Linked DNA regions of Homo sapiens. The protein of the gene in region 7 purifies or fractionates together with the protein of the main gene of each other region. This does not show direct contact. Each region holds a gene or a part of one and is shown on either strand. Other genes may lie near its edges. The genes, in order: ABHD18, ZNF277, CERK, SEMA4B, PRMT3, PRDM10 and PDCD2.

Region 1 (3,500 bases), on a different chromosome or scaffold from region 7:
ATAAAGTGTAAGTCATTTATCTTAGTCGTGAGTTAAATTTTAATACATCTTTGTTTTTTAAAAAAGTCATGGTAAATATATACAACATAAAATTTACTATCATAACCATTTTTAAGTGCATAGTTCAGTGGCATTAAGTATATACATGTTGTGCAACCATCACCACCATCTATCTCCAAAACATTTTTATCTTCTCAAACTGAAACTTACCCATTGAACAAAACTATTCATTCCTCCCTTCTCCCAGTCTCTGGCAACTGCCATTCTCTTTCCATCGCTATGAATTTTACTACTATAGGGACCTCATACAAGTGGAATCATACAATATTTGTCCTTTTGTGTCTGGCTTATTCACTTAAGATAATGTCTTCAGTGTTCATCCATGTTGTGGCATGTGTCAGAATTTCATTCCTTTTAAGACTGCATAATGTTTAATTGTTTGAATATACTACATTTTATTTATCCATTTATTCATTGATGGACATTTGTCTTTTCTCTTTTTTTTTTGACAAAGCTGTTAATACCCTATTTTATATTAAATAATGTTTTCTTTCCTTTCATATGTTCAGACAGATTCTTTCAAAATGGGACAAGAGTTTGTGAAACACTTCACTAGCAGTGCAGACAAGCTAACTAACCTTAATCTGGTTTCCAGAACTTTAAATTTAGATATATCAAACCAAGTTGTATCCCAAAAACCTGCTGACTGCCATAATTCTAGCAAAACATCTGTCAGTGCGACATCAGAAGGACTCTTATTGCAAGATACCTCTAAGATGAAGCGCTTCAATCAAACACTTTCAACCAACAAAAGTGGTTATACAAGTCGCAACCCTCAGTCATACCACCTACTTAGTAAAGAACAAAGCAGAAACAGTCTTCGGAAAGAGTCTTTAATATTTATGAAAGGAGTCATGGATGAATGTACTCATGTAGCAAATTTCTCAGGTACTAATTTTTATATGAAATTGAGAATATTTGCTGATGTGTAAGTATTTGTGAAATATTTTAAAAGATGCTCTATAAGATAATTTTATATTTTCAAGGGTATATTTTTTTGTTGGCTCCAGAATATGTTTGCAAAGATAAGTTGGTTACTTAAATGTATCATATTCTATCTATGAAAATTTAAGATTATCTTATTCATTAAGAAACACACTGGACAGCCGGGTGTGGTTGCTCATGCCTGTAATCCCAGCATTTTGGGAGGCTGAGGCAGGTGGATTGCTTGAGCCCAGGAGTTCAAGACCAGCCTGGGTAACATGGTAAAACCCTGTCTCTACCAAAAAAAAAAATACAAAAAAGTAGTCATGTGTGGTGTTGCAAGCCTGTAGTTCCAGCTACTTGGGAGGCTGAAGTGGAAGGATCGCTTCAGCCCAAGGAGTTGGAGGTTGCAGTGAGCCAAGATCACACCACTGCACTCCATCCTGGGTGACAGCAAGACTCTCACACACACACACAAACACACATACACACACTCTCACACACTCTGGAGCTGGACACAGTGGCTCACGCCTATAATCCTAGCACTTTGGGAGGCTGCGGTGGGAGGACCGCTTGAGCCCAGGAGTTTGACACCAGCCCGGGCAACATAGTGAGACCCTGTCCTTATCAAAAATGTAAAAATTAGCTGGGTGGCCGGGCCCAGTGGATCACGCCTGTAATCCCAGTGCTTTGGGAGGCCAAGGCGGGTGGATCACTTGAGGTCAGGAGTTTGAGACCATCCTGGCCAACATGGTGAAACCTCATCTCTACCAAAAATATAAAAAATTAGTTGGGCGTAATGGTGTGTGCCTGTAATCCCAGCTACTCAGGAGGCTGAGGCAGGAGAATCATTTGAACCCGGGAGGTGGAGGTTGCAGTGAGCAGAGATCATGCCACTGCACTCAGCCTGAGTGACAGAGTGAGACTCCATCTCAAAAACAAAAATAAATTAGCTGGGTGTGGTGGCATATGCTTATAGTCCCATCTACTCAGAGGCTGAGGCAGGAGGATCCCTTGAGCCCAGGAATTCAAGGTGGCACTGAGCTATGATTGCACCACTGCACCCTAGCCTCGGTGACAAAGTGAAACTCTTATCTCCCAAAAGAAAAACACTGGATTGCTGAGTGTGGTGGCATTCACCTGTAGTCCCAGCTACTCAGGAAGTTAAGGAGGGAGGATCACTTGAGCCCAGGAGTTCAAGGCTGTAGTGCACTATGATCTTGCCAATGAATAGCCACTGCATTTCAGCCTGGGCAATACAGTGAGATCCCATCTTTAAAATAAATGATTGAGGCGATGCATACCTTACGTACTCTGATGTGATTATTATGCATTGCATGCCCGTATCAAAATATCTCATGTAACCCATAAATATATACACCTACTGTGTACCCACACCCACACAAAAGAAATAAATTAGTTAATTTTTAAAAACCACAGTATTTTGTATCATTTTTAGAATATTTATCTCGTACTGGAGATGAGTAAGGTAGCATATTATAGTTGATTTTTAATTTAATCAAAAATGTTTAGTTTGACGAATGTTTTATTTACTGCATTGTGTGGGTTTTTTTATTTTCTAATGTGTATATGTTGAATTTTTAAAAATCCTATACCTAGTCCCAGTTGATCCAAGCCTCATTATAGTGGTTCAAGCCAAAGAAGATGCCTATATTCCACGAACAGGAGTTCGAAGTTTACAAGAAATTTGGCCTGGTTGTGAAATCCGATACTTAGAAGGGGGTCATATTAGTGCTTATCTTTTTAAACAAGGACTCTTCAGGTAAGACGGCTGGTCTAAACATGTATTCGTTCATTTGTTGTTTGTTTTCTGGATTTTTTGCTTCAACAAATGTAAAAGATCACATATTTTTATAGTCTGTTTCAATCTTTGAATTCCCTCCTCACCTCCCACAAATCTCACAGAGTTACTTTTCCCTCTTTCCTAGAATTTGATCTTCTTATTTTCTTCTAGAGAACTAAGCATGATGCATATTATAGGCATGCTTTATCGTGTGGCTTTCCCCTCTTCAAATATTAATGGCCAGGTATTTTAGGATGTGAGAAGGAAGATCATGGCTTGTTAAAGTTGCTTTGGTGCATCAAGAGTTTTTTCACTCTATTCTGATGTTTTTTCAGAATGGCCTGAACATCTGTGGAATAATTTAGCAATGTTTTTCAGTTAGCAAGTGAATATTGAACCTTAAATAAGAAGTGCTTTTAATGTGAACAACCTTATATGACTCCACTATTTTAGTTAGAACTTATAAAAACTTTTATGCTGGCTGGGCGCGGTGGCTTACGCCTGTAATCCCAGCACTTTGGGAGGCGGAGGCGGGTGTATCACGAGGTCAGGAGATCAAGGCCATCCTGGCTAACACGGTGAAACCCCGTCTCTAGTAAAAATACAAAAAAAAAAAAAAAAAAGTAGCCGGGCATAGGTGGTGCATGTCTGTAGTCCCAGCTACTTGGGAAGCTGAGGCAGGAGAATGGCATAAAACCCGGGAGGCGGAGCT
Region 2 (3,500 bases), on a different chromosome or scaffold from region 7:
TATCTTACCTACACTTTTATCACACTGCAGAATGCATACATAGACTTCTACATTTTTAGAAGGCTACAAAATGGATAACATTGTAAATTATAAAAACTATAGATATAAGCTATGAGCAATTATAATGTTGTTGCTGTTCTTTGATATGGAGTCTCGCTGTGTCACCCAGGCTGGAGTGCAGTGTCACGATCTCAGCTCACTGCAACCTCTGCCTGCTAGGTTCAAGCGATTCTCGTGCCTCAGCCTTCTGAGTAGCTGGGATTACAGGCACCCACCACCACACCCAGCCAATTTTTGTATTTTTAGTAGAGACGGGGTTTTGCCATGTTGGCCAGGCTGGTCTCAAACTCCTGACCTCGGGTGATCCGCCCACCTCGGTCTCCCAAAGTGCTGGGATTATAGGCGTGAGCCACCGCGCCCGGCCCAATTATAATGGTTTAACTGATTGACATGACTTGTTTGGACTATGCTGTAAAAAAGTTGGGTATGGAGGGAAGTAGTTAGACTTGGAAGACTTCAAAAGCAGAAGATACCGAACTCAGACTGAGTTTCTAAACTACTCAAACTCCTGTGAATAAGTTGTTTATAACTTCAGCCTGAAAGATTAAATAATTCATATGCTTACAGATGTATTCATTCCTTTTTTAGGATGCACACGAATTTGATCTTCTCAAAATAAAGTCAGAACTTGGTAAGTTTGATTCAGAGGTTTTTTTCTGTGATGCTTCATTTTTTATAAACCATCCTGTAAGCTATGCCTATGTTCAGTAGCTATGATTGGAGAGTGCACCACCAAAACATGTCTCTCTATAGATGGTCTTGACAGAACTCTCTGTGAAGCAGTGATGCTCAACCATAATAGTCAAATATGGTTTTTGGTTTCATATACTCCTTCTTTCTCTTTCCTACATATATGAGTGCTTCAAGTGAAATATAAGTTAGTGGTTAATAATATATCATAAATTGGAGGGGGCTAGTGGAATATGGATTTTTAAGTCAAACTAGAGTTCAGATTCCAGCTCTGGCACTTACTGGCTATGACATTGGGCCTCAGGTCAGAAAAATGTTATGAGGAGTGAATAATGTATGGTAAATGGCTACTGCACTGCTTAGCAGTATAGCTAGGATTGTTTGTTATAGGTGTACCCAATGTATCATTCTAAGTATCACAACAATAGAACGATTTGGGGCATTAAGACATACGTAAAGTACTGACTTGCTAATAGATCTAAGACAGTAAAAAACTTACTTCTCACAGCTCAGCTCAGTCACTGCTTTCCTAGGTCCTTGGATGTGTTACTTTGCTGCTTTTATAGACATATATATACATTGTTTATATAATTAGCTTAGTAGTCAAGCATGGGCTTTGCAGCTGACAGCTATCTATGCGATGCTAGGCAGTTTCCTAATATGTAATGTAGGTATGATACTACCTATCTGATAGGGTTTTATGAAGATTAAATGTATTAATACATGGAAAATTATTAGAATAGTGCCTAGCTCATAAGCCCTGTGTAAATATGTGCTGTTATTATTTGGTATCTATTATTATGCTTTATAATTGTACTGCCTCTTCAGGTTGATTAATAAAAATAAGTGGCTCCTTTAAGAAATTATAATAGTGCAAAAAATGGGTCTGAACAGTTGTCTAATGATTCTGTATTTTGTCATTTTCAGGATTAAATTTCTATCAGCAAGTGAAACTGGTCAATTTTATTCGGAGGCAAGTTCACCAATGCAGATGTTATGGCTGCCATGTGAAGTTCAAATCCAAAGCAGACTTAAGAACTCACATGGAAGAAACTAAACACACTTCGCTGCTCCCCGATAGAAAGACGTGGGATCAACTGGAGTACGTACTGCAAAACCAAATGTGCACTTCTTACTCCAACTCTTTGATTTTGTCCCTTTATTTAATTTCTTTAAGCCTACAGAAAAAAAAGGAATACATATTTATTATAAAAAGTATACATCAGTACAGTGTGGGGAAAAATGTAAAAATATTCAAAATGCTTATTTTTAAAATAATCCCCCTCTTACAAATGAAACCAAGTATTTTTCAGTATTTGTGATATGGAGATAGATACATATGTAGAGAGATGAAGTAGATACAGATTTTTTAAATTATATTTTATTAACAAAATATTGTAAATATCTTTCAATAGCCAGTATCCATCTGTTGCATCCTTTCTAATGGTTGCTAAATATCCATTGTATGGATATAATCTATTCTGCGAGATACTTAGGTTGTTTCTTACTTTTTGCTATTATAATGATACAGTGAATCTATATGCCTACATTTTAGCACACTTATCTAATTATTTAATTAAGCTGAACTCCTAGAAATAAAATTACTATGTCAGAGTTTGCACACTGCTAGGACTTTTTGTATATATTTTGTATATTGGCACTTGAAAAAATTAAGCAGTTGGTCATCTGTTGTTGGATTCCCATGTATCCTTTGCCAGAACTTTGTGGACTGGTTCCCAAGTATCCTTTGCCAAGAACCTTCTGGACTGGTTCTCACATCGTTCTGGATAACCTCAGTCGAGGGCTCCTCTGAGAGACTGTGGGGTTCTAGCTGCCCAGAGCTCCTTCTGTTCTTAGGGAATGTTAAGTCAGTTCCCCCAGAACTTTAACCAGAAAGTTCTAGTTTTTCTCCTTCAGAAAATCCCACACTTGTGAGGGTACCCTGTTTTTATGATCCTTCTTATATAAATTAAAATTTGTAATATTCCAAAAGTAACTTCAAAATGTATTCAGAGAAGGAACCAGAATAACAAACTTTATATTCCGTAAGTGTTTCCTTTTGTGATTACCTAGAAAGAAGGAACTATTAGGCTGGAAAACAAAACACAAGGAAGAGCTTATTATTCTCAATTATTTGAATAATTTGTGTTTGAAAAATTAACTATATTTGAAGTTTGTTAACTTATAAGGAAGAACTAGGACCTTTGAGTAGAAATGAGAAAGATGTCATTTTTAGCTTCACAGGAGGTGTATCAAACAACTAGATCTACCCACTACTGGGGTCAGCTACCTTCGAAGATAGTGTGTTTTGTTATCATGATAGATGATCAAGCAGAGGCTAAGTGGCCAGCGGACAACTCCAGAGGCAACTCTGGAGGGTGGGAGGTCCACGATCTTGGTTTACCAAATCTGGATAGTAGATTTGGTAAGGTTGATGTCAGCCAGTAAAAGTCAAAGTGAAAGCAATCAGAAGTTGTCTCCAGTATAGCCTTTGCAAAATGCTATGAAATTGTTGGCAAGGATACCTGACAAAATTATAGTAAATGTGTACATTCAGCTACCTGGACACTGTATTAGCTTGGTAATTTAATACTATGTATCTGTGGTTGTTTTCAGGTATTATTTTCCAACCTATGAAAATGACACTCTCCTGTGTACACTATCTGACAGTGAAAGTGACCTGACAGCTCAGGAACAAAATGAAAATGTTCCCATCATCAGTGAAGATACATCTAAACTGTATGCTTTGA
Region 3 (3,500 bases), on a different chromosome or scaffold from region 7:
CAGTTTGGGATTCTTCTTTTCCCCAAAATTCCTAGAGATTTCCCAGAACTACTATTTTTAATGCCCATATCATGGTCCATTATGTGGGCATGCCATATTTATTTAGCCTCTCACTTGTAGATGTTCAGGCTCTTTCCAATTTTTGCTCTTAGGATAGCATTGTTGTACATAAATCTCTCTGCATACATCTACATTTTTAAGGTAAATTCCTAGAAATGAAATTAGTCATAGGAGATTAACATTTTAAAATCTCTGCCGTGTACAGCCATATTGCTTTCGAAAGAGATTCTATTAACTTACATTCTTTTTTTTTTTTTTCGTTTTTGAGGCAGAGTTTCGCTCTTGTTGCCCAGGCTGGAGTGCAATGGCGTGACCTCGGCAGCTTCGGCCTCCCAAGTCCAAATGATTCTCCTGCCTCAACCTCCCGAGTAGCTGGGATTATAGGTGCCCAACACCACGCCCAGCTAATTTTTGTGTTTTTAGTAGAGACAGGATTTCGCCATGTTGGCCAGGCTGGTCTCGAACTCCTGACCTCAGGTGATCCACGCGACCCGCCTCAGCCTCCCAAAGTGCTGGGATTACAGGCATGAGCCACCGCGCCCGGCCAGTTTACATTCTTTCTTATAGTATATTATTTACTGTCTTTGTCAACATGTTTGGTATTATCAGTATAAAATTTCTCTGCTAATTTGACATGTGAAAGTCTCTAATATTTTAAGAAATATGTTTATTGGCTAGCTGGCTTCTTGGAATTGATTTTTATGTCTTTGGCCCATTTTCTTTTGTTGGCCATAATTTCAGTCATTTGTTCTCTTATCCAACAAATAATAGGCAATTCATATTTATATTCATATTTTTGCAAATATTTTTGCTAATTTTGAAATTGTCTTTTAATTTTGCTTATGGCATTAATTCTTCCCAGTAGAAGTTTTCAAATTCATGTACTCAAGTCTGTCCAGCTCTTCTGTGCTGTTCTTTATGCTTAAAATTTCACTCTTCATCTTGAGTTTAGCTATTCCCCTGTAGTTAATTGCCTTGTCATTGGTTGGCTTTTTGTTTTCTTCTCTCTGTTCCATCTGGAGTCGGTGAGCAATGTGTTATAAATTGCAGCGGATATTTATTGAAATCATTATTCATTCCACAAACATTATTGAGGGTCCTCCAGGTCCCAGCACTCTGCTGGTGCTAAGGTTAGAAAGGGAAATAAAAGGAGCCCCTGCCCCCAGGTGCTGACAGGGAGACCCCTTTGCTCCCCTCCTAATGCGGGAGTGTTCTGTTCATGGGCTCCAGGAAGCAGGGGGCTCCTCCATGCACATCTCCCCAACTCCACCCGATGGCAGCTCCTCCATGTACTTCTTCCCACCACCTCCACCCGACAGCAGCTTGGCAGGAAGACAGTCGTCTTCACTTTTCAGCAGGGATGGGGCTGGCACCTTATTGCACCCACCCTAGCCAAGGGATCAGCCTCGCCTCTTGAGGGCACGCCTTCTCCCCAAACCCAGGGACATGCCGTGCAGGAGGCTGGGAGGCCTGGCCAGTGAGGGCTGCTCTTCCTGCGGCTGAGCTGTCTGTCTGAGTGATCTGTCTGTCTAACACACAGATGCTACACTGCCCATTCAAGGATGCCCTGTCCTCGAAACCACAGCCCCGCTGGGAAGGCTGCCCCGGTGCAAGGTGTAGGCTACGGGGAAGGGCAAAGAGCCTTCCCATGGGAGCCGGGCCCAAAGCAGGTGGCCTGAGTGGTGGGTGGTGGGCAGAGATCCCAGCCCTGGAGACTGGTCGCGCCTGCACAGACAGACCCACTGGGGAATGGGCAGGCACCTTGATGCTGTCATGCTTGAGGGAGGCCCCTCAGGCTGCACCCCCTAGTCGACTCACACCGCTCCTCTACCGGCGGACCTTCCCCCTGCAACCCTCTCTTCCCGGGTGATGAGAGCTCTTGGGCTGCCGTAGGCTATAGAGATGTCCAGGAAACCTGAGCCCTGTCCTCTGCCTTCCCTCTGGGCTGCAGTGACATGTCTGTCTCCATGCCTGCACCTCTCATTCTGCCACCTCAGTGTTGGTTCCCTGTGGGTTACCCCCGGCATAGGACAGCACACCCTGAAACCAACCCGTCCTTTCTCCCTTCAGCCACTGTCCCCTTTCTCCATCTCCTCTCCTTAGATTGTCTCATGCCCCATTTTGTCCGCATTTATTCCGTCCCCTCTGCTCTTGCCTTGGGTCCTCAAGACCACCCACACGGCTGGTGATTTGCTGCCTGAGCTAGAGTCGTGCTCTCGGCTGAGATTTCTGACGGGACAGAGCAAGGCTGCACAGCCAGCTTAGCAAAGGAGAAACGTCCCCGCGCAGACTGCTGTGCCTCTCCCGCAGTGCGGGTCACCTGGAGTGCACCCTCTCTGCTCCCACAAATGCAGCAGCACAGGTGTACTCTTCCCGCCCCGCAAACTTGAGTCCTGAGACCCAGAGTGTAGTGTTTTTGAGGGGGTACAGGCATGCAGGCATTCTCTGCCTAGCCACCCAAATTCCAGACTCACAGAAGGAAAGCCAGTATTTGCCATCAATCTCATTATTTGTACACGTGGTCTAGGCCAACTGGCACAGAGGCACGACCTTATCACTTAGGGACATTTCAGGAGCCGCACTTCTAGATGCCTGCCAAGGGCCAGGTGTGCAGGCTGCCCCTCCTGAAGCTGGAAGCCTCAGGCCTGCTGCGCTCAGAGGGCCGCACCTGCAGGAGCCCTGACCGGCTGTGTTCCTCCTGCAGCATCGTCTGTGTCGGCGGAGATGGTATGTTCAGCGAGGTGCTGCACGGTCTGATTGGGAGGACGCAGAGGAGCGCCGGGGTCGACCAGAACCACCCCCGGGCTGTGCTGGTCCCCAGTAGCCTCCGGATTGGAATCATTCCCGCAGGTATGGAGCCGGCCTGGCATTCTCTGTTCTCTTCGTTCCCGTCCTTAGGAATTGTTCTGCACAAGTAGCCACCTCGGACACTTAATAACCCAATTATACTCAGTTTAGTTCGTACAGATTTCCTAACATTAGGGCCACTCTTGGGGGGATATCATTGAGAGTATGACCCCAATGAAATAGACACTCGTGGAAAGGAAAGTTGCCCGACTCCCCCAAAGGCTGCTTCACGCAAGGCAGGAGAACCCCACCGCTGGGGGTGCAGTCCTGGAGTGGGGAACCCCCGGTGCCCGGGAGCAGGTGGGTAGGTTGGCAGGGGGTGCGTTCTGGAAGAAGTGGCTTCTGGACCTGAAGGAACCGGGAGTTAGGGGTGGGTGTGGGCAGGAATCGGGCTGGGGAGTTGGGAGGAGACTGAGTGGGAAAGGTGGGGGCGGAACCAAGGGCAGGACCTAGCCGAGCCCGGGAACAGCTGGGCTGTGTCCTGAAGTGCTGGTTCGGCTTGGTCCATTCAACATCCTTCTAGGAACCACCTTGTTCTTTGAAAAATCACAGTGTTAAGCTAAGTCAAGCTGAGGGCCTGAGCGTGGTGTGTT
Region 4 (3,500 bases), on a different chromosome or scaffold from region 7:
CACCCACATCCATGCATGGCCTTTCCCATCCCGCCAAGGAGTACAGCTTGGCTAACAGCTTTTCTCTCTCACCTTTTAAATTAAAATATCTTACTACTTTTTTCTTTTTTTTTTTTCTTTTTATTTTTAGACAGGATCTTTGCTCTGTCACCCAGGCTGGAGTGCAGTGGCACGATCACGGTTCACTGCAGCCTCGACCTCCTGGGCTCAAGCAGTTCTCCTACCTCAGCCTCCCGAGTAGCTGAGACTACAGGTGTGCGCCCCCATGCCCAGCTAATTTTTGTATTTTTTGTAGAGATGGGGTTTTACCACGTTGCCTGGGCTGGTCTCAAACTCCTGGGCTCAAACAATCCACCCACCTCGGCTTCCCAAAGTGCTGGGATTACAGGCATGAGCCACTGCACCCAGCCATTTTTTTTCTTTTCTTTTTTTTTTTTTTACTTAAAAAATGTGAAAATAGCCGGGCATGGTGGCTCACGCCTGTAATCCCAGCACTTTGGGAGGCCAAGGTGGGTGGATCACCTGAGGTCAGGAGTTTGAGACCAACCTGGCCAACATGGTAAAACCCCATCTCTACTAATAATACAAAAGTTAGCTGGGCGTGGTGGTGCACGCCTGTAATCCTAGCTACTCAGGAGGCTGTGGCAAGAGAATCGCTTGAACCTGGGAGGTGGAGGTTGCAGTGAGCCGAGATGGTGCCACTGCACTCCAGCCTGGGTGACAGAGCAAGACTGTCTCAAAAAAAAAAATGTGAAAATAGAAAACTGTACACACAAAAATCACTTACAAGTTAAAGAGGCACTGTAGCATCAGCTGGAGAGCACAGACCCTGGAGGCCAACTGCCCAAGTTCAAACCCTGCTGGCCTAGGATCTTGGGCAAGTCCCTCACCCCCTCGGTTAACAGTTTCCTCTTCTGTTAAATAGGAAGAATAACACTGACCTCAGAGTTGTTATGTGAATTATTAATCCACGCAAAGCTCTTAGAAATGTGGTGGGCAGTGACTAAATGTGAACTATGAATGTTATTACCCCACCACCCCAGCACAAGAAGGAGTCACTGGTATCATTTTAGAATGCCCCCTCCAAATCTTTTTTTTTTTTTTTGGCATATGTGTAACTCTGTGTATATATATATATACATTTTTTTTTTTCCTTTTTGAGACAGGGTCTCACTTTGTCATCCAGGCTGGTGTGCAGCGGTGAGATTTCACTGCAACCTCCGCTGCCCAATCTCAAGCAATCCTCTCACCTCAGCCCCTCATGTAGCTGGGACTACCAGCATGCACCACCATGCCCAGCTAATTTTTTTGTATTTTTAGCAGAGACAGGGTCTCAAACTCCTGAGCTCAAGTGATCCACCCGCCTTGGCCTCCCAAAGTGCTGGAATTATAGGCATTAATAATATAAGTACCATCCCGACCTTGTACTTATATTATTAACTCACTCAGGAACATGGCATTAGGCTATATTGGGGTCCTTTGGCTTCCTTGTTTGCTCAGCAGTGAATCGCGTCCATATTTAGGAAGGCTCTGCTTAGTTACAGTAAGGACCATCCTCCTGATGGATGCGTACACTGCTCTTCCTGACTTTAGATGGAACTTGGTCCTGGCCTTCTCCTGCCCTTCAGTCCTGGTGTCTGGGGTGGGTCCATTGAGGCAGTCCTGTGCCGTGCATCCCCGTCATGGCTCAGCATGTGCCTAAGCCCAGCCCATCCGACTCTCCCTCCAGGGCGATGAGGGTGGAGAGCGGGTGCTACAGCAGCGCTGGACCTCCTTCCTCAAGGCCCAGCTGCTGTGCTCACGGCCCGACGATGGCTTCCCCTTCAACGTGCTGCAGGATGTCTTCACGCTGAGCCCCAGCCCCCAGGACTGGCGTGACACCCTTTTCTATGGGGTCTTCACTTCCCAGTGGTAGGGCCTCCAGACCTCGCTGGAGATGGAAGGGTGAAGGGTGGCTGGGACTGGGGCCCCCAGGGCTCCTGGGTTAATCTGGTTATTTCCTCTGCAGGCACAGGGGAACTACAGAAGGCTCTGCCGTCTGTGTCTTCACAATGAAGGATGTGCAGAGAGTCTTCAGCGGCCTCTACAAGGAGGTGAACCGTGAGACACAGCAGTGGTACACCGTGACCCACCCGGTGCCCACACCCCGGCCTGGAGCGGTGGGTACTGGCTCCCTGCACCCAGAAGGGGTGCCGGGAAGATGTGGGTCCCCACACCATGCTGGGAGCAAGGCTGCCTAGCCTCGGGCAGATCACTTGGCTTCTCTGAATCTCTTTTCTCATCTTTAATATGGGGATATAGGCCCAGGCCTGCTTGTGTACTGGGTTAGATATAAGTATGAATGTCAGAATATCTTCAGTTCTGTTTCAGGATACAAGTGTGTCCCCATCAGGGCACTTGCTGCAGGCTGTTACAATCATCTCTTCATTTGGTCCTCTCCCCTACTCAGCTGCAAGCTCCTTATTTAATTATCAAGTGACTGAATGGGCAAGCTGTGGGGAAATAATCCTTTCTTCCTCCCTTCTAGCCTAACGGGCTACCCTGATAGCAGACCTTGAGACAAGGATATACGTGCCAAATAGTTTATTAGGGAGGTGATGCCAGGAAGCAGCATGAAGGAATAGGAAGGTTGAGAGGAGGAGGGAGGGAAACCAAAAGAGGGTGTGTCAGCACGCTGTTGTTGCTGTGGGCAGCTGGAGCTGGGTCCTGCTGGAGCCCCTGACAGATGGTGTGGAGCACCTCTCAGAATTTCAGGAAGCCTCAGGCGGGGCAGGAAAGAACTGCCGACTGCACTGGGACGCTCTGCCCGGCCAGGGCTTCCTGAGAGCACTGGTGAAGGGTGCAGAGGAGCAGGGAGTGTGGTCCTGGTTCTTGAGGCCCCTGGGCATATGAGGCTGGGGTGGTGGGCAGGGAGGAGGCACAGCAAGGAAGCCCTCCAAGCACTCGGTTTCCCCGCACCCTGGGCTTTGTCCTTGCTCCCTCAGATGTGCACACTGGCTCTGTAGAGCACTGCCAGGGATGTGCCCTGGCTCCGGGCGGGGGGACAGACACCGCTACTGTCCACTGGGGAAGCAGGGCCCGCATCCTGCCTGCCACCCCGAGGTGTGGCTGGCCTCACACTGCTGCTTTCTCCTCCAGTGCATCACCAACAGTGCCCGGGAAAGGAAGATCAACTCATCCCTGCAGCTCCCAGACCGCGTGCTGAACTTCCTCAAGGACCACTTCCTGATGGACGGGCAGGTCCGAAGCCGCATGCTGCTGCTGCAGCCCCAGGCTCGCTACCAGCGCGTGGCTGTACACCGCGTCCCTGGCCTGCACCACACCTACGATGTCCTCTTCCTGGGCACTGGTAAGTGTCTGCAGCCCAGCAGGCTCAGGGGAAGGGGTGCACGTGGCTGGTGGGTCATGGGCAGTGGGCTCCACCCAGGGCCTGAGTCCTGTCCACACCCCAGGTGACGGCCGGCTCCACAAGGCAGTGAGCGTGGGCCCCCGGGTGCACA
Region 5 (3,500 bases), on a different chromosome or scaffold from region 7:
CTGCCTTGGCCTCCCAAAGTGTTGTGATTATAAGCATGAACCACCATGCCTGGCCCTGTTTTTTACTTTTAATTAATTAACTTTTCTAGAGACAGAGTCTTTCTCTGTTACCCAGGCTGGAGTGCAGTGGCACGATCTTGACTTACTGTAGTTTCCAACTCCTGGACTCAAGCAATCTGCTCACCACAGCTTCCCAAGTAGTTAGGACTACAGGCATGCACCACTATGCCTGGCTAATTTTTTTAAAAGAATTTTTTGTACAGACCTGTGTTGCCTAGGCTGCTCTCAAACTCCTGGGCTTAAGTGATCTTCCTGCCTTGGCCTCCCAAATGCTGGGATTATAGGTATGAGCTACCATACCCTGTTGAAATATTTTATAATGTTGTTTGATATATTTTATTGAAAACTTTTATAATATCAATATTTTTAAAATATTTTATAAGTTGATACATTTTATTAAAATTTTATTCTACATTTCAAATTGAATCAGTAATTGTAAATGACAACTTTATAGACTGCTTAGTAACAGTTACATGTTTAACCTTTGCACATAAATCTGGTTTGAAAAAGATAATACGTTAGTAAATAAGTACATATTTATCCCAATCTTTAAAAACTTTCATGAAACCTAGGATAAATGTATTGAAATTAGATTTCCTGGGCAGTACTAGAAATCTATAAGGCTAAGGAATAGTCACAAAGAGGGAAGAAACTACAAAATGAGAACCCTAAGTATGCTAGATAATCAACTAGGCTGTCTGCATATATGATTTGTATATGAAGGCTGAAGCTCTTTTCCATATTTTAGTTTTTTTATACAAATCTTTATTACATCCTGATTTTCTAGCAAATACAATTAAAAACTCCTCCTCAGAGGAGTCCATAATAAAATGTGTAGTACCTGTGTTACTAGTTTAATAAAATATCCAAATAACTAACCAATTTGTTTAAAATTTATAGTAAGAAACTTATTAAAAACAAAAGACTATCTCTCTTCCAAATATAGGCCAATGTAAATGATTTTCAATATAGATAAACTCAATGTGGGAGTTACATTTGGTTAAATCTGGTGGAGCAAACGTCTAAGAAAATGATTACGTGGCAGACCATGAGGATCAGCTGATTCTCTTCCTCAGCTGAACTATGTCAGATTCCCACAATGAGAACTTCTCTCTTATTGAGGAGGCTCATTAGGAAAGGGTCCATCATCCATCCATCTGCTCACATAAAACCAGCTCCCTCCTGCTGACCCACTCTACCCCCACATTAAAAACTACAAGGTAGTGTGCTTTTATGGCTGTTTCACTGGAGACCATAAGTTTGAGTTGAATTATTCAACGTGAGGGTCACGGTGAGAGAACGTGGATCTTTCTTATTCTTGTGAACTGTGACCTTTCCTTTCAAGGCTTCACCTGTAAAACAAAGGCAAAAATTGTTAAGAATTCAAGGAATACAGTGTAGCAGAAAAGTAAACAATGTATAACTAGCACTTCTTTTTATTGTGATGTTTTCCCACTTTTTAAACTTTATTTAAGGTTAATATTCTTTTTTTTTTTTTTTTTTTTTAAGATGGAGTCTCACTCTGTCACCCAGGCTGGAGTGCGGTGGTGTGATCTCAGCTCACTGCATTCTCCCAGGCTGGAGTGCACTGGTGCAAGCTTGGCTCACTGCAACCTCCGCCTCCTGGGTTCAAGAGATTTTCCTGCCTCAGCTTCCCGAATAGCTGGGACTACAGGCGCATGCCACCATGCCCAGCTAATTTTTTATTTTTAGTAGAGATGGGGTTTCACCATGTTGGCCAGGCTGGTCTCGAACTCCTGACCTCAGGTGATCCACCCGCCTCAGCCTCCCAAAGTGCTGGGAATACAGGAATGAGCCATTGTGCCCAGCCAATATTCATTTTTTAGAGCAGCATTATGTTTCATTAATTTTTTTTTTAAGACAGTCTCTCTCTGTTGCCCAGGCTAGAGTGCAGTGGTACAATCCCAGTTGACTGCAACCTCTGCCTCCCGTGTTCAAGTGATTTCTCCTGCCTCAGCCTCCCAAGTAGCTGGGATTACAGGCATGCGCCACCATGACCTGCTAATTTTGTATTTTTAGTAGAGACAAGGTTTTGCCATTTTGGCCAGGCTGGTCTAGAACTCCTGACCTCAGGTGATGCGCTCACCTACCTCAGCCTCCCAAAGTGCTGGGATTACAGGCGTAAGCCACTGCGCCCAGCCCTGTTTCATTAATTTTTGAATGAAGCGAGAACTAACTACATACCACAGTGTCAAATCCTTGTGAAAGTGAGTAAAACTATTGTGGTCATAAAGGGTCAATGGAAGCATTTTACTGAACTTCTAAATATGAGGCCCTATGGTGGGTTCTGGGCATCTAGAAAAAAGATATGGTCCCTGCCCTCAAAGAGTTTGTGATCAGGGTGAAGAAAAAAGCTATACTAACAATTACACAATAGGCATGTGTCTAAAGTGTGCTGGAGGTGAGCACTGGGGATGGTTGGAAGGCAGTTAAAGGCAAGGTTTCACAAGAATTAATGAATTACCCAATGCCAGGGCTGAAGTCATGGAGAACCAGGCTTAAGGGATGTACATGTAATGGTATTTAAGGAAAACACATACACAGAACCTTCAGGAATGGCATTTTGAGGAACTGAAAATTATAGCTGGGAAAATGTAGAGGCACATGACAAAGCCATTGGCCATTGATGCACTGGTGCTGTAAAAGGGAAACAATGTACCCATGTGAAACAGTGAACACACAAAAATTACTTACCTGTGCAAAGGCTGATTTCCTAAATTCTGTAGGTTCCAAATTTTTATCTATGTACTTTTCTAATTATAAATACTTCTCATTTAATTTTTCATTTATTTTAAAGAGCTGTTTAAAAAGTAACAAATTGCTAAGTTGTAGTTGATCACCATTCTTTGCTTAAATAATATTAAGATAACACCAAACAGTGTCAGGAATAGCTTTAGCATCTGCATGGACACAATGAGGCTCCATATAATGACCAAGGAAATCTACATAAAACTATTGAAGTACTGAATGAATATCGTATTTAAAAAAATACAAATTCCCCATATTCAAGGAAAATTATCTGAATGCTTTTCAAGATGGTAGTGAAATAACACAAGTAAAACATAACCACCTGTTATATTTATTTTCAGAATATAAAGATTCCATTACTGATACCTTCTCTACATCTTTGCAAAAAAGGTGAGACTCACAGTTTAACACATAATTAAGGAGTTAAATAATAGAAGAAATAATGTGGCCCAAGGTGCAATCCATTCAACAAAATATAACAATTTTTGTGTACGTATATATGTTAATGTGTATATTTGGCTTTAGCTTTTATATCTGACCTATTCCTCTATATTAAGAAAATGATATAAAACTATCTCATATGACATGTTCACCAATAGTGGACATAATAAAGATTACCAGTCAGATAGTTCTACAAACTTTATGGAGTTCAGGTTAATCATTAGATAATT
Region 6 (3,500 bases), on a different chromosome or scaffold from region 7:
ACTGCACCCGGCCAGGATATTGTTTTTAACTGAACCTTTTCTCTGGAAGGATTTCCCTTAACTTCAATCAATATATGTCTGGTTTCTGGGCCTGTTTTTTCTCCTTCCAGGCCACTTCCCCTCACCAGTCACAGCAGTCCACTGTGGATGTTGGCCAGCTCCATGATCCTCAGCCCTACCCCCAGCACGCCATCCAGGTGCAGCACATCCAGGTCAGCGAGCCTACCGCCTCGGCCCCGTCCTCCGCCCAGGTACCCTGCTCCACAGACTATTTGGAGGTGTTATCATGGCTTCAGGGATTATCAGAGTTAATGAGAGGGAAGACATTCTCTTCAGACCTAGTCTCCTCAGCTACTGTTATTTTTGGATTTTTATTAAAGGATCTTACCTTTGCCTCCAATTTTTATATTGGCATTGTGGACACATATTAAGCTGTTAGCTGCTTCTGCCCTCATAGAGTCCTGTGGTACGACATCCTAGAAACAACAGTGGTCTTTGCTTTCATTCTAAATGCAATGGCTAAGTGGCTTCTATGATTTGGAACAGTGGCTTTCTGGAGTATTATGGTATATTTTATGTTACTGTGTTTGTATGCTTGAGTCTGGAATTGAGATACATAGATAAGTTCTCAGAGTTCAGAGAGGGAGAGATTAGGTTTAGGAGGGAATCCAGGACATTTTTTAGAAGAAGTGGTCTTTGAGGTCTTGAAGGAGGGGTACAGTTCTGACATAGTCGTTGGGGAAGGCAGTCTGATCTGAAGAAGCTCATGCTGCAATGGAAAATGTACATTTATAGAAAACAGGGTTATTCTGTTTAGATTACTCACAGGAAATGATGTTTGGAAAGGAAGTTGGGAGGGTAGTTTGGAGCAGGATTGCAGTGTGGCAGGCTGGAGAGCGCTGGCCTCATCCTGTTATCAGGAGTGGGCCTCTTCACCCACCTGTGCTGAACTCCACCAGCCAGGTGGGATTTGCCAGTACTGGTGAATGGAAACGATGAACTTTGGGTTTCATTTCATTTTGTGTTCCAGATTAGCTTTGTGACACAGGCAAGTTACTTCACCTCCCATTATTTTTAAACTTATAGAATGTAGGTAATTATATTTTCTTTCATTTATCTTTCCAACAGTTGATTGAAATTAATTTTTTTGCATACTCTGGTAGAGAATCCTTTGAAAGCAAATTAGAATTTCATAGTTATGCTTGCTTTTCATTGAGTTTATTCTTATTTAAAATATTACTTTTAATAATAGCAATGATAGGCCAGGCGTTGTGTCTCATGCCTGTAATCCCAGCACTTTGGGAGGCCGAGGCGGGTGGATCACCTGAGGTCGGGAGTTCGAGACCAGCCTGACCAACCTGGAGAAACCCCTTCTCTACTAAAAATACAAAATTAGCTGGGTGGGTTGGCACATGCCTGTAATCCTAGCTACTCGCGAGGCTGAGGCAGGAGAATCACTTGAACTCAGGAGGCGGAGGTTGCGGTGAGCCGAGATCATGCCGTTGCACTCCAGCCTGGGCAATAAGAGTGAAACTCCATCTCAAAAGAAAAAAAAAATAGCAACGATAGTTTCAGTATTATAATTCATATGAGTCTGGTGTACTTCCTTCAGTTATTTGTGAGTCTTCACTATATTAGAAGCTCGTAATTCCCTACCATTGCTTTCTCTTTCTCCCCAGGTATCTGGGCAGCCGTTGAGTCCCTCAGCCCAGCAGGCTCAGCAGGGGCTCAGCCCCTCCCACATCCAGGGCAGTTCTTCCACACAGGGGCAGGCTCTGCAGCAGCAGCAGCAGCAGCAGCAGAATTCCTCTGTGCAGCACACGTACCTGCCCAGTGCTTGGAATTCCTTCCGTGGCTATTGTAAGTAAGAAGGGACGATGCCGTGTCGGTCAGGGGTGGGGGATCTCCAGCCATGTGTCATAATTTCTTCAGCTTGTGATAGATTTTTAAAGTATCTCTTGGCCATTGTTTACACTCTCTATGAATGTACTTCAATGGGTTTCATGACAAAACTCAAGGTGTAGCATTCCGCTTTCACAGAGCTACCCTGATAGGACATTTTCGAAACGTCAGGTATATTGCTGGAGGAAATGTAGCTATGAAATTAAATAGTAAGATAGTTGGATATAGCTTATGTTGAGTCATCCCTTCCACCAATATTTGTAGAATGCCTGTCTATCAATCGCTGTACTAGACACTGGCTATGCCAAGATTAATATTCTCATTAGTATCGGTAACACCACACAATAATAATGTTAACCAGCTTTCATTAAGCTCTTACTACATTGCCAGGAATGATTCCGAACCATATATATCACAGTCAGTATTCACAACAACCTATAAGATAAGTACAATTGTTATTTGCATTTTACAGATAAGGCAATTTCCACACACTCACTTTTCCAAGAGCTAGTAAACAGAGGATTGGAACCCAGGCAGTTTGGCTTCAGAGTGTCCACTCTAAACCACCCCACTGTGCAGCTGACCATCATCTAGTAAAGGAGGGAGATAGAAGAGTCGTTGATTCCAAAGCCCTGAGATTCGTGCTGTGGAAACAGTAGCAGGCTGGCTGACAGAGGTCGGGGCAGGTAAACCCCTTGGTGGGGAAACAGCTTTGGGGCAGGCCAGGAAGTATGAGACCTTTCTCATGGAAGGTGTGGAAGGAATAGGAGTAGACTTTAACAGACCTCAGTAGTAGAAACTAGGAGGAAGAGGTGCTGAGAAGGGAAAGGGTCGGTATTGATCTTTCTTCTACTGTTGATTTATTTTTGGGGGCCCGTCTTTGTCATGATTGATCCTTGGCTATGTTACATAGATTTGCTATGGAGTCAGGCTCAAACTCTACCGTCTAGTTATTTTTACAATCAATATTCTTTTTTTTTTTTTGAGATGGGGTCTCGCTCTGTCACCCAGGCTGGAGTGCAGTGGCACAATCGCGGCTCACTGCAACCTCCGCCTCCCGGGTTCAAGTGATTCTCCTGCCTCAGCCTCTTGAGTAGCTGGGATTACAGGCACCCGCCACCACGCCCAGCTAATTTTTGTATTTTTAGTAGAGACGGGGTTTCACCATGTTTGCCAGGCTGATCTCGAACTCCGGACCTCAGGTGATCCGCCCACTTCAGCCTCTCAAAGTGCTGGAATTACAGGCATGAGCCACTGTGCCCGGCCACAAACTATACTCTTAAACATTGGACGTCACATTGAGGGCTGGGTCTAGTTTCCAGTCAGGGACTCTCTTACCACTAGAATCTGGTGAATAGACTGACCTCTGTACTCAGTGTAATTCCTGTGAAAGAGAGTGGAGCGGGCCAGGCGTGGTGGCTCATGCCTGCAATCCTAGCACTTTGGGAGGCCGAGGTGGGCGGATCACTTGAGGTCAGGAGTTTGAGACCAGCCTGGCCAACATGGTGAAACCCCATCTCTATTAAAAACACAAAAAAAATTAGCCACGTCTGGTGGCGGATGCCTGTAATCTCAGCTACTCAGGAGGCTGAGGCAGA
Region 7 (3,421 bases):
TGTTGATTGTGTCTACGTACCATTTCTCTCTAAAAGGAACTCCAGGCTCTTTGGAGAGGTGGTTGATTCCAGAACTAGGTCAGGAAACGTTCATATAATGTGGGAACATGGTCATATCAAAGATTAAGGATAAGGATTACTAGGGCCATGTCAGAACTCAAGCAACATGAAAAGGCTCCTGCTTGCAAAAGATGGACAGTTTGAACATCCACAAGGACGCTAACTGCATCAGATATGTTTAATGGGTTCAAAATGATACTTTAAAAAAACTCAGTAATCATCTTTATAGGATACTTGGGAACAGACTCATTTTCAAATTGGTAAATAAAAGGAAAGAGTTTGCCTTCGAGGGGTACATAACTTAATTATGAATGAAGTGATATGTGTGGAATTTACTTCAGAGTAATGGAGGTGGAAGTGGCAGAGAAAGGAAACACTGGACTTGATAGTGTTGAAACTGATTAATGATATGTGGCGGTTCATTATAGTATTTCCACTTTTCTGTATGTCCAAAATTTTCTAAAATAAAAGGAGAATTGAATAGAAAAATGCTTCCTGGAGGTAGCTGTGTCTTACCTGAGACTTGGCAGGAGGCAGTAGGGCCTGAGGGAACAGCATTTACAGTGTCCTAACGGTTATACTGAAACTTTCCACGTATACTTGATGGAACATCAATCTGAAGGCATCCTACACTTCCTCCATCAGACCTGATGGTGCAAGTGAACACCATCAGTGCCTTTCCAGTTTCATCAAAGCAGTTATTTTAGCTTCTCTGACCCAAGGTATATCAGTTCTATTTTAACGTACATTACAAAGACTAATGGTTATACTTAGAGACACGGGTCTGTTGGGGACAGCAGTGGCTTAGGGTGGCTGTAATCCCAGGAAGGAATGTGGAGAAGGAAATGAACATTTTTTTTTTTGAGACGGAGTCTCACTCTGTCGCCCAGGCTGGAGTGCAATGTCACCATCTCGGTTCACTGCAGCCTCTGCCTCCCAGGTTCAAGTGACTCTCCTGCCTCAGCCTCCCGAGTAGCTGGGATTACAGGCACCTACCACCACGTCTGGCTAATTTTTATATTTTTAGTAGATACGGGATTTCACCATGTTGGCCAGGCTGGTCTTGAACTCCTGACCTCAGGTGATCTGCCCGCCTCGGCCTCCCAAAGTACTGGGATTACAGGCGTGAGCCACTGCTCCAGGCCAGAAATGAACACTTGATGACTGAGTGAGTGAGCCTACCAGCTGAGGATACTAATGATAAGGGCTCACATTTGTTGGGTGTCCTGTGATGTGCTGGGCAGTCCTAAGCCCTTGACCATTCTGTTATTTTGAAGCTTTAAGGAGATGCACTAAATGGAAGTCCATATAATAGAGTTGGATGGAGTACCTGGAAATTCAGATGGTCCAACTTGAATGAGTGAATAAATAGGGAAAGCTATCTGATTAAAAGTGGGTCCCCTCTCCATGTGTGAATTGTCAAGTTGTGGGGATTACTCCTGTTTTTCATAATAGTTACGTTGATTTTTCAGGTGAAGCACTTGAGGAAGAACTGGATTCCATGGCAAAACATGAATCCAGGGAAGATAAAATTTTTCAGAAGTTTAAAACTCAGATAGCCCTTGAACCAGAACAGGTAAAGTGGAGCTCATAGCTCCTCATCGTGTTCTCTTCAGGCCATGTTTTATGAGTATAATCTGTAAGAAATAACTTCATAGTAACATTAGTCTGTTCCTTAGGAGCCTATAAAAGCAGGCTTTTGTTATCTTGTTAGAGGAGTTCCTCACACAGATGGGCCATGTAGAAAGGTGTTTTGCAGTGCTGATCCATTTAATAGTTACTAAAAGACTAAAGGTTATACTGTTTATCATACAGGGTTCATTTTCTAAAGCAAGCATCAGGGATGGGAGATGAATGAGATGTTGCCTAAGGTACATGAGGTTTAGGCACCATTGGCCCCCCCGCCAGAAAGAAAAAAGGTTATTTTTGCCCATTTCCAACAGGTAACTTTGGCTTGTAAAATGTGACATGTTAACATTTTTCTCCTTAACCTCCCCTACCATAAACGTAAATCACGAAAGAAAACTAAACTCCCATAAACCAGTCACTGGTTCAAATAAATACACAGGAAGAATAGATCTAGGTCTTAAACACTAAGGCAGTTTTTAGCAATGCATATGCTTTTAGACAAAATACAGAAAACCACTCAGTTGCTGTAGGAAGCTTATTACAGTGAAATTTACTTATGTTTGTAGTAGTTTTCAAAACACTATGTTTCACTTGGTATTTGTCCCTCCTAAAATTTTTTAACTATGAAGGTAGGCACAGACTCTGGGCAGAATTCTGCAATTAGAGCAGAGGCTCATTCTTAGTCCCTTCACAATATATTCATAGGATTAAGTTGCCAACATTAGGTAGTAAAAGCATCATCTGGGAGATATATTTTGATGCCCTCTGAGTCAGATAAACTGAAATAATCACTTTGAGGTGATTGAGAAGGCATTAGTGGCACACTGGTACAGCCAGGTCTGATGGGGGAACTGTGACATGCCTTTTGGGTCAGTGCTACATCAAGAGTAGGAACATTCATGGAGTAGATAGCATGTTACCATTGGCAACTTATAGGTAAGGTATTGATTATTTGAACATGATCTTCATTGATTTTAGATTCTTAGATATGGCAGAGGTATTGCCCCCATCTGGATTTCTGGTGAAAATATTCCTCAAGAAAAGGATATTCCAGATTGCCCCTGTGGTGCCAAGAGAATATTGGAATTCCAGGTATGACCTTAAATAAGGACCATTTAGTGTGTAATCACCATGATTGTTTTTAAACATTAAAAACTTCACCAAGGTAATTTGTGCACATGGGTCAACATGGCAGTATGGAAGGGTACCCTATAATGAAAATCATCAGTTTCCTGCCTCACCTTGGGGCTAGTTCCCTGGAAGGAACTGTCTTGTTTTTTTCTGTTTCCTAGTTTTCAGACACGGTCTATTGACTGACTTCTGTGACAATGAGGATATCTACACTGCTCTCCACCTCCAGTGTGGTTATGTCATTATTATTAGTGCCTCTGTTAACTTTTGTTATTTTAAATAATGTATACCTTCCTTTCTTGTTCTAGTAATTAAAGTCTTTGACTATATACTTTATGAGAGGAGTCTTTACTGTTTAATCTTGGTTTGTGGATTTGTTAGAAAAAATGGATATAAGCATTAAAGATAAATGTCCTTCCCTGCCCAAAAGGATTTGTTAGCATCAAAATCCATTTGGGTAGGGTGGAAATGCTCTTGAGCTATGGATTCACTAACCTTACCAAAGTCATAGCTAATATTGGTTTGTTTCTTTGGGTAAAAAAGGAATTATGAGGACCATACACAAAACTCTGCTTGGTTCTTAGTGCCAAAGCTCTCAATG

What was found.
Region 1: the proteins of PDCD2 (region 7) and ABHD18 purify together in Homo sapiens (affinity purification with mass spectrometry; one large-scale study listed by BioGRID and IntAct). This does not show direct contact.
Region 2: the proteins of PDCD2 (region 7) and ZNF277 purify together in Homo sapiens (affinity purification with mass spectrometry; one large-scale study listed by BioGRID and IntAct). This does not show direct contact.
Region 3: the proteins of PDCD2 (region 7) and CERK purify together in Homo sapiens (affinity purification with mass spectrometry; one large-scale study listed by BioGRID and IntAct). This does not show direct contact.
Region 4: the proteins of PDCD2 (region 7) and SEMA4B purify together in Homo sapiens (affinity purification with mass spectrometry; one large-scale study listed by BioGRID and IntAct). This does not show direct contact.
Region 5: the proteins of PDCD2 (region 7) and PRMT3 purify together in Homo sapiens (affinity purification with mass spectrometry; one large-scale study listed by BioGRID and IntAct). This does not show direct contact.
Region 6: the proteins of PDCD2 (region 7) and PRDM10 purify together in Homo sapiens (affinity purification with mass spectrometry; one large-scale study listed by BioGRID and IntAct). This does not show direct contact.

Annotation. Positions count from the first base shown.
Region 1 is NC_000004.12:128,027,906-128,031,405, forward strand, and holds part of ABHD18 (protein ABHD18), read left to right. Parts: intron 1-569; coding exon 570-948; intron 949-2,604; coding exon 2,605-2,767; coding exon of another isoform or gene 2,768-2,771; exon of another isoform or gene 2,772-3,500.
Region 2 is NC_000007.14:112,339,195-112,342,694, forward strand, and holds part of ZNF277 (zinc finger protein 277), read left to right. Parts: intron 1-648; coding exon 649-691; intron 692-1,677; coding exon 1,678-1,852; intron 1,853-1,860; exon of another isoform or gene 1,861-1,928; intron 1,929-3,366; coding exon 3,367-3,500. UniProt on the Homo sapiens protein: Probable transcription factor. Involved in modulation of cellular senescence; represses transcription of the tumor suppressor gene INK4A/ARF, perhaps acting via the Polycomb group (PcG) complex PRC1.
Region 3 is NC_000022.11:46,707,253-46,710,752, reverse strand, and holds part of CERK (ceramide kinase), read left to right. Parts: intron 1-2,764; coding exon 2,765-2,910; intron 2,911-3,500. UniProt on the Homo sapiens protein: Catalyzes specifically the phosphorylation of ceramide to form ceramide 1-phosphate.
Region 4 is NC_000015.10:90,221,830-90,225,329, forward strand, and holds part of SEMA4B (semaphorin-4B isoform 1 precursor), read left to right. Parts: intron 1-1,729; coding exon 1,730-1,911; intron 1,912-2,008; coding exon 2,009-2,159; intron 2,160-3,138; coding exon 3,139-3,349; intron 3,350-3,452; coding exon 3,453-3,500. UniProt on the Homo sapiens protein: Inhibits axonal extension by providing local signals to specify territories inaccessible for growing axons.
Region 5 is NC_000011.10:20,506,216-20,509,715, reverse strand, and holds the end of PRMT3 (protein arginine N-methyltransferase 3), read right to left. Parts: intron 1,413-3,500; coding exon 1,303-1,412; 3' UTR 378-1,302; downstream 1-377. UniProt on the Homo sapiens protein: Protein-arginine N-methyltransferase that catalyzes both the monomethylation and asymmetric dimethylation of the guanidino nitrogens of arginine residues in target proteins, and therefore falls into the group of type I methyltransferases.
Region 6 is NC_000011.10:129,908,836-129,912,335, reverse strand, and holds part of PRDM10 (PR domain zinc finger protein 10), read left to right. Parts: intron 1-110; coding exon 111-251; intron 252-1,679; coding exon 1,680-1,860; intron 1,861-3,500.
Region 7 is NC_000006.12:170,578,217-170,581,637, reverse strand, and holds part of PDCD2 (programmed cell death protein 2), read left to right. Parts: exon of another isoform or gene 1-549; intron 550-1,532; coding exon 1,533-1,636; intron 1,637-2,667; coding exon 2,668-2,781; exon of another isoform or gene 2,782-2,858; intron 2,859-2,981; coding exon of another isoform or gene 2,982-3,002; exon of another isoform or gene 3,003-3,156; intron 3,157-3,421.